2 linked regions of the Homo sapiens genome follow. The protein of the gene in region 1 purifies or fractionates together with the protein of each later gene. This does not show direct contact. Each region holds a gene or a part of one and is shown in the gene's direction. Other genes may lie near its edges. The genes, in order: RFWD3 and COA1.

Evidence for each region.
Region 2: the proteins of RFWD3 (region 1) and COA1 purify together in Homo sapiens (affinity purification with mass spectrometry, with the first as the bait; one large-scale study listed by BioGRID). This does not show direct contact.

The regions. Positions count from the first base shown.
Region 1 is NC_000016.10:74,660,193-74,664,009, reverse strand, and holds part of RFWD3 (E3 ubiquitin-protein ligase RFWD3), read left to right. Parts: exon of another isoform or gene 1-2,054; intron 2,055-2,556; exon of another isoform or gene 2,557-2,558; 5' UTR 2,559-2,560; coding exon 2,561-3,078; intron 3,079-3,817. UniProt on the Homo sapiens protein: E3 ubiquitin-protein ligase required for the repair of DNA interstrand cross-links (ICL) in response to DNA damage. Plays a key role in RPA-mediated DNA damage signaling and repair.
Region 2 is NC_000007.14:43,642,359-43,646,175, reverse strand, and holds part of COA1 (cytochrome c oxidase assembly factor 1 homolog), read left to right. Parts: intron 1-776; coding exon 777-925; exon of another isoform or gene 926-930; intron 931-3,817. UniProt on the Homo sapiens protein: Component of the MITRAC (mitochondrial translation regulation assembly intermediate of cytochrome c oxidase complex) complex, that regulates cytochrome c oxidase assembly.

The DNA.
Region 1 (3,817 bases):
TTTCTCGTGCATAGGGGGAGAAGGGCTTTGTTCTGTGTTTTGTTTTAGCTGGCTGGTGTTTGAGTAGGAGTCAAGCTAACTGCTTTACTGGCTTTTAACCAGCCCTTCTCTTTTAGCGCCATCTTTCAATATTGCCTTTTGTGGTACCTGGTTTTTACAGTCCCTTTAGTGGGAATCAGCTTGCTTCTCAATAACACACCTCACCCCAACCACTGTGCCCTTTGCAGGCTTTGAGTTTTATCTTTTGGCTCTGCTAAGCAGTCATCAATCATCAGTTTCTCCTTTATGGCCTTAAAAAACTGGTTTGCATATCATACCCTGTTTGCATTTGTGTCGTCCTGGTTAATTTATCCTTTCTTAAAAAAATGTCTCAGGTTGTGGGGGTCATGTTCGTGGGTTTTAGGAATGACTGGAGTGGAGAGAGAAAGATACATATATGTACTTCGTCCACTATGTTTATTAGAATTCCTTCCATTTATTCAGCCTGCACCAGTCTGGCCTCTGACCCCACCACTTCAGGGAAACTGCTTTTTTAGGTCACCTGTCATCCTCATGTTGCCAAATCTAGCGGCCGTTCTTCCCCCCAGTAGCACTTGACACTCAATTGTTCCTTCCTTGAAACATTGTTTTTCCAAGACACCACATTCCCATGTTTCCTCCTACTTTATAATCTTCCTTAACTGGCTTCTTTTACTCTGTTGTACTTTTAACAGTAGTGTCTCTGACTTTAGTCTTCAGCCCTCTTCTGTCATTCTGTTCCTCAGGTGGTTTAATCTGCTTTGATGATTTTAAGAAACATGAGTATTGGCCGGGCGCGGTGGCTCATGCCTATAATCCGAGCACTTTGGGAGGCTGAGGCTGGCAGATCACCAGGTCAGGGGATCGAGACCATCCTGGCTAACACAGTGAAACCCCGGCTGTACTAAAAATACAAAAAATTAGCCAGGCGTGGTGGCAGGCACCTGTAATCCCAGCTACTCGGGAGGCTGAGGCAGGAGAATGGCGTGAACCCGGGAGGCGGAGCTTGCAGTGAGCCGAGATCGCGCCACTGCACTCCAGCCTGGGCAACAGAGCGAGACTCCATCTCAAAAAAAAAAAAAAAGAAGCATGACCATTCTGAAGATTCTTAAAGCTGTCTGTTTGTTTTCATCTCCACTGCTACCACTCTTGCCTAGGTCTCTCTGACCTCTGGTCTGGACTCCCACAATAGCCTCTACACTGGTCACCTAGCTTATGCTCTTGCACCCCTACAGTGCATTCCTAACATAGAAGAAACTCCTTACCAAGGCCCATAGGCCCTTTAATAATGGTGTCCTGTTCATCAGTGAAACCCATGCTCATCAGGGACCTATGCACTGATTTCCTTCTGAGACTCTTCTTGGCTCTTTGCATAGCCAGCTGCTTTTAATCCTTCATGCCTCAGCCCAATTTTCACTCTTTAAAAGAGTACTTCCCTCACAATTGTGTCTTAGTTGGTCCTCTTTGTCTCCTCAACCCCAAACATCATAATCTATAATTTTTTTCATGTATTTGTTTATTGACATCTTACTTGCTAGAATCTAAACTCTGATACATGGGGTCTTATCTGTTTTTGCCTCTAGGGTGTCTTGTCTGCATAACAGGTGCTTAATAACTATTAGTTGAACCCCCATTTCCTCATAAGTCAGATGAAAATAAAAGCACGTGCCTTACTTCACAAAGTAATTAAGGGGATAAGTTATACTGATGTACTTTAAAAACTAGGTGGTAGGGAGGCACAGTGGCTCAGTCCTGTTGTCCTGATGCATGAGGAGGTAAGGCCAGGCATTCAAGACCAGTTTGGGCAACATAGGAAGCCTTCATCTATATAACAAAAAAAAATTTTTTTTTTTAGTTTAAAAACTAGGTGGTAGTTTTCAAACTGATACAATGGAATTAAAGATAGGAAACATGAAAAGAACATAGGTGCTTAATAAATATTTGTTGAATACGCTAACATGATGGAATTAGAGATGGAAAACAAAAATAATGAAAGGGATAGGATAAAGTTTGCTCAGCCTTTTTGGAAACATTAGGTAAGTTTCCATTTTGAGTTAGTAACAGTTAATTTTGCAAGTGTAAAAAATGTCCTTTCTCTATTTATCCCTTGTAACTGTTGATGCTGTGAAAGATTAATATTGCCTGCTAAAATTAGATACTGCATTATATGCATTTGATTTTGGTGAATGTCCATATTCAGCTTGAGAGAACTGCAAAGTGTCTGAGAGATTACTTTTAGACCCAGTAGTTTAATCTCCTTGGTTTATAGATCTTTCTATTTTGGAAGATACTACTATGATCACAGGACTTCATGTTTTCTAAGGGCAAACCGGAAAACTGGTTATAAATGCTTGTTATAGAGAGGAAAGTCCATTACCAAACACTTCTGACTTAAGTAGTTAAAATCTTCTCTTGAAGCTTCTCAGTCTTGCTAAGAATGATATTAAACATAAAATCAGAAAGATTAAATATGATTCTGTCACCTACATAGCATGTTTTATCTATTTTATTAATACTTTTTACAAATACTGTTTCTCTAGTGATGGCTCATGAAGCAATGGAATATGATGTTCAGGTGCAGTTAAATCATGCCGAACAACAGCCAGCTCCTGCTGGCATGGCCAGCAGCCAAGGGGGACCAGCCCTCCTCCAGCCTGTTCCTGCTGATGTGGTCAGCAGCCAGGGGGTACCATCCATCCTCCAGCCAGCTCCTGCTGAGGTGATCAGCAGCCAAGCGACACCACCCCTGCTCCAGCCTGCTCCGCAACTGTCTGTTGACCTGACAGAAGTGGAGGTCTTGGGAGAAGACACTGTGGAGAACATCAATCCAAGAACTTCAGAACAACATAGGCAGGGATCTGATGGTAATCACACCATCCCAGCATCTTCGTTGCATTCAATGACCAACTTCATCAGCGGACTGCAGAGACTTCATGGCATGCTGGAATTCCTGAGACCTTCATCTTCAAACCACAGTGTAGGGCCAATGAGAACAAGAAGGAGGGTATCTGCTTCACGGAGGGCAAGAGCCGGAGGGTCTCAGAGGACAGACAGTGCCAGGTAAATAAATATATGGATAAGTCTGTGATCATTGCTGTACTAGAAATTATGAAACTGAGGCTCTGCCATTCAAGGACTGACAGTGTGACTTTTGGCAAGTCAGGTAACTTCTGACCCCCAGTTCCTCATAGGTGGAAATAAAAGTGCTTGCCTTACTTCACAAAGTAATGAAGGGATAAGTTAAACTGTTGTGCCTTGAAAACTAGGTGGTAGTTTGTTGGCAATCTCTGTAGAGATTGGCTGTTGTTCAGATTGTGTCTTGTACACCAAAAATTCTTTCTTCACTTGCAAGTCTCTACTCACCCAAATTCATTATTCACTGGCATTCCACCTGGGGGCACAATTAATTAATTTTCTTTCATAGTCTTGGTTTGAACTTGCCTCTTGAAGGGCTTAGCTGTCAAGTCTTGACAGGGTTATTATGAAGAATAACAATTGCCTATACCCTGTCCGTTTTTTGGTTTTTTGTTTTTGTTTTTGAGACAGCGTCTCACTCTGTCGTCCAGGCTGGATTCCCGTGGCACAATCTTTGCTCACTGCAACCTCCATCTCCCAGATTCAAGCGATTCTCCTGCCTCAGCTTCCCCAGTACCTGGCATTACAGGCGCGTGCCACCACACCTAACTAATTAAACCTGTCTGTTTTTGGTTTTGTTTTGTTTTGAGATGGAGTCTCACTCTGTCGCCCAGGCTGGAGCGCAGTGGTGCGATCTCCGCTCAGAGAGGGCTTTGTTCAGGGT
Region 2 (3,817 bases), on another chromosome or scaffold:
CAGGTCACCTTTCCCTTCATTAGTGTGATGGGACCTTCAGAAGAGAAGCACTTTCTGCGGCCAAACTGAACACCCTGCTTGGGAAGCCTGCCTCTGCTCCCTCCTTTGGGCAGCTGATTATTAGAACTTACAGCTTCAGGGAGGTGCTTCCCGGAGTTCCCAGGTAGCCTGTGGGCTCAGAAGGATTCCTGAGACTGAGAGCAGTTTGAGTTGAAATGTTGGCTTAAATCTTGATGAATGAACATTTTCATATCCTGTTTCTAGGCCTGAGGGTTTTGTTGTTAATGTTGTGGTCTTTCTATTTTATGTCTCAACTTAGTGGAACAGGCAGTGTTGAGAAGTCAGGTATCATGGATTCTGGCCTCGGCTTTGCCATGGACCAGCTGTGTCACTTTGAACAAGTCATGGAATCATAGTAGGACTTTAGAGCAAACTTAGAGACTTGAGAGGAAACTTAGAGAAGAGCTGACCAAACCTCTTAGGTGTCAAAATAAGGCAATGAGTGAGGGTAGAAATGAGGTGAAGCAGAAAGGGTCTGCATGAGGTCAAGGCCCAAGGTCATCTGCACATCCCTGCAAAACACTGCCTGCCTGTGCTTTGGTTTTTGAGTCTGTAAAATGGACAATTTAGAGTAGATGGCCTTAATTATTCGTCCATCCACAGATTTCACGTTTCTGTTTCTACCCTGTACGTCAGTTGGATTATTTAATTTTCTGTGTAGTAGATTCTACCTGACCAAGTTCAATAAAGAAAATAAGTGTGTCTTTCGTCCTTAGAGTTTCATTCCAGGGCTTTATATTACAAGTTGGCAGTGGAGCAGCTGCAGAGCCATCCCGAGGCACAGGAAGCTCTGGGCCCTCCTCTCAACATCCATTATCTCAAGCTCATCGACAGGGAAAACTTCGTGGACATTGTTGATGCCAAGGTAATGTGCTTTCCCTGCGAACCGCAGGCTGGTGCCTGCTGAAGGAGAGGAGAGTCTACTGTCTCCTGGAAAGTCCTGGAGTTAAGGATTTGGGATGGGAAAATCCACTAAGTAAAGCTAGGTTTGGCACCTTTAAAAAAAGTTTTTCTATTATGGATTTTAATGTTTATATAAAATATATTTTATATTATAGATATTTCTGTATACTTTTCTTCCATTCTGGGGAATTGATGTGGCAGGGAATGCAGTGGGTATGCTGATGTCGCCATCTTGAATTGAAGGTAGTAGAGAAATGACCAGTGGTGGTTTGCTACCATGTTGGCTTTGATAGCTCTCAGCACTTTGGGAGGCTGAGGTAAGAGGATTGCTTGAGCCCTGGGGTTTGAAACCAGCCTGGGCAACACAGCAAGACCCTGTCTCTCTCTCTCTCTCTCTCTCTCTCTCTCTCTCTGTCTCTCTGCCTGCCTGCCTGCCTGCCTGCCTGCCTGCCTATCTATCTATCTATCTATCTATCTATCTATCTATCTATCTATCTATCTAATCTATCTATCTATAATTTAGCCAGGCGTGATAGTGCACACCTATAATCCCAGCTACCCAGGAGGCTGAAGCAGGAGGATCGCTTGAACCCAGGAGTTGGAGGCTGCAATGAGTTATGATCATGTCACTGCACTCCATCCTGGGTGACAGAGTGAAATTGTCTGTAAAATTAAAAAAAAAAGAGAAATGCATCTATATCCAGTCAGTGCTCATTCAAATGTACCCAACTCTTTAAACTTTGATTTTTAAAGTGTATTTATTTACATTGCTTCCACAGAATACCAACCCATTTTTTTAGCTATAACTTATCTTTTTGTACTTGATCACACTCACTTGCATGTAAAACACATTTGTTCTGTTTAACAAACATATTTTGAGTATATGCTCTGGTTTGAGAAATGATTCTAAGCTATGTGGGGAATAGAGGTGCAGAAGGCTTTTGGGGGTTTACAGTTGAAAATTCCTGAGTAAGACAGGGTGAGGGAAACCCTGTCACTATTGTGCAGGCCTAGGGGAAGTGGCTCGAGGCCTGGGAGATGGCTGTGAGGACTTTGAAAGGTGGAGAGGAACACCCGGCTGAGGAGCAGCATGCCTGGGAAAGTTCATCACTGTGTCGCCTGTCAGTGTGATACGGCAGTGGAGGCACAGGTGGGCGAGGTGGGTGTGGGCAGGTAGGAGGGGCTGCGGCCACCAGGGGCCACAGTGTCATCTTGGAAGGTGTGTGCTTGACTCTGGCAGCAGAAGCCCGTAAAGTATTTGGAGGATGAGTGAGGTGATCCGACCTACATTATTTTTTGTTATTTTTAGTATGTTCTTAATGGACCCAGCTCTAATGAGACTTTTTTCTAACTACAAAAGCAATTCATGCTCTGGTATTCTGATTAAAATATTCGGTTTTAAAAGAAGGTGGATTTGTGTAGATTGGTAATGCCCAGGGACTGGCTACGGGGAGCCATCTTTAGGAGAGAGATGTGGCCACACTGGTGTGCAGTGGTGAGAGCATGAACCAGAGGTGTGGCCTGGAGAAGCAAAAGACGGATGTGAAGCCATCGTGGCATCCAAGTGACAGAACTTGGTAACAGTCATGTATCAGGAGCGGGTGGGTCAGAGGTGATGGTCCAGTGTCCAGCATGGACGTGAGTGGAAGGACGGCAGCGACACTGCGTGAGAGAGGACATCCTGGAGGAGGAGCACAGGGAAGGGCTGGGCATGTGTGGAGTGCTCACTCTGTGCCAGGCCACCGGATTGCTCCCATGGTGTGGCGGAGCCTGTCTGTTGCTTCCTTGCCTTTGGTCACTTGGCTAGACCCCAGCAATCCTGAGAACTTGGAAAAGCCACTGGGTAGGTCTGGCTGTTGCGTTTCTCTCAGCACAGAGCCCAGCTGTAGCACTGAGGAATTGTGTGCCAAAGGCGCCTTTGCTGGGGCTGGTTGATGCAGCATCCATGATCTGGTGCTCCAGGAACCCCAGTGAGAGTAGGGTAAGGCCATGGTGGTTTTGGTGGGAGCTTTGTCCTGTCCAGCTTTCACTTTGGCCCCAGTGGTGCTGAGAGGGCGCCTTCCTGGGCTTCCCCACATCCCTGGGGCCTTGGCCATGCTGTGACTATGTTGGTTGTGGTGCTAGGTTCTGGCTTCTACTGCGGCCAAATGCTGTGACTCTGCAGTGACAGGAGTTCAGAGTCTGCTGCATCATGGCCACCTGGAGCCTCAGTGCACGCCTTCCAATTTGTGGACTATTTTTGACATTCTGTCAGGGTCCTTTCTTTATAATCAGCGGTTTGTGAGGATGCCTGTATACAGCATATGCCCTCTTATCCCAAATTCCTTTATTTGCAATTTTTACAGTTTTTCCAGAGGTGAGATGTTTCAGTTGTTCATGAAGTAATTGTCATACATTGGGATTTTTTCCCAAGTATGTGTGTGAGATAGTCACCAGTGACCAACACTTTGCTTTACCAGAACTCCTGCTTTAATCTTTGGCAAGGTCTGGCTGGTGAAGGAACCAACCTGTAAAGTGTCACATCTACCCATGGAAGCACAGCTGCCCACAGTTCAGACATTGGCCCCTCAGAGTTTGCTCTTCTTCAGAATCCTTCTTGCTTCTGCCCATTTCTTTCTCCTTCCTTTTTAAATTTTTTTTTAAAGCATCCAGAGATGCTCAGTGTATACTCTGTTGCTTAATTCTATAATTTCCAGAGAAAAGCTGTAGCTTGACTCAAACAGTGGGACCCTGAAAATTTGTTCTTTTTTAAAATTTTTTCTTGAGATGGAACCTTGCTCTGTTACCCAGGCTGGAGTACAGTGGTGTGATCTTGGCACACTGCAGCCTCCACCTCCCAGGTTCAAGCGATTCT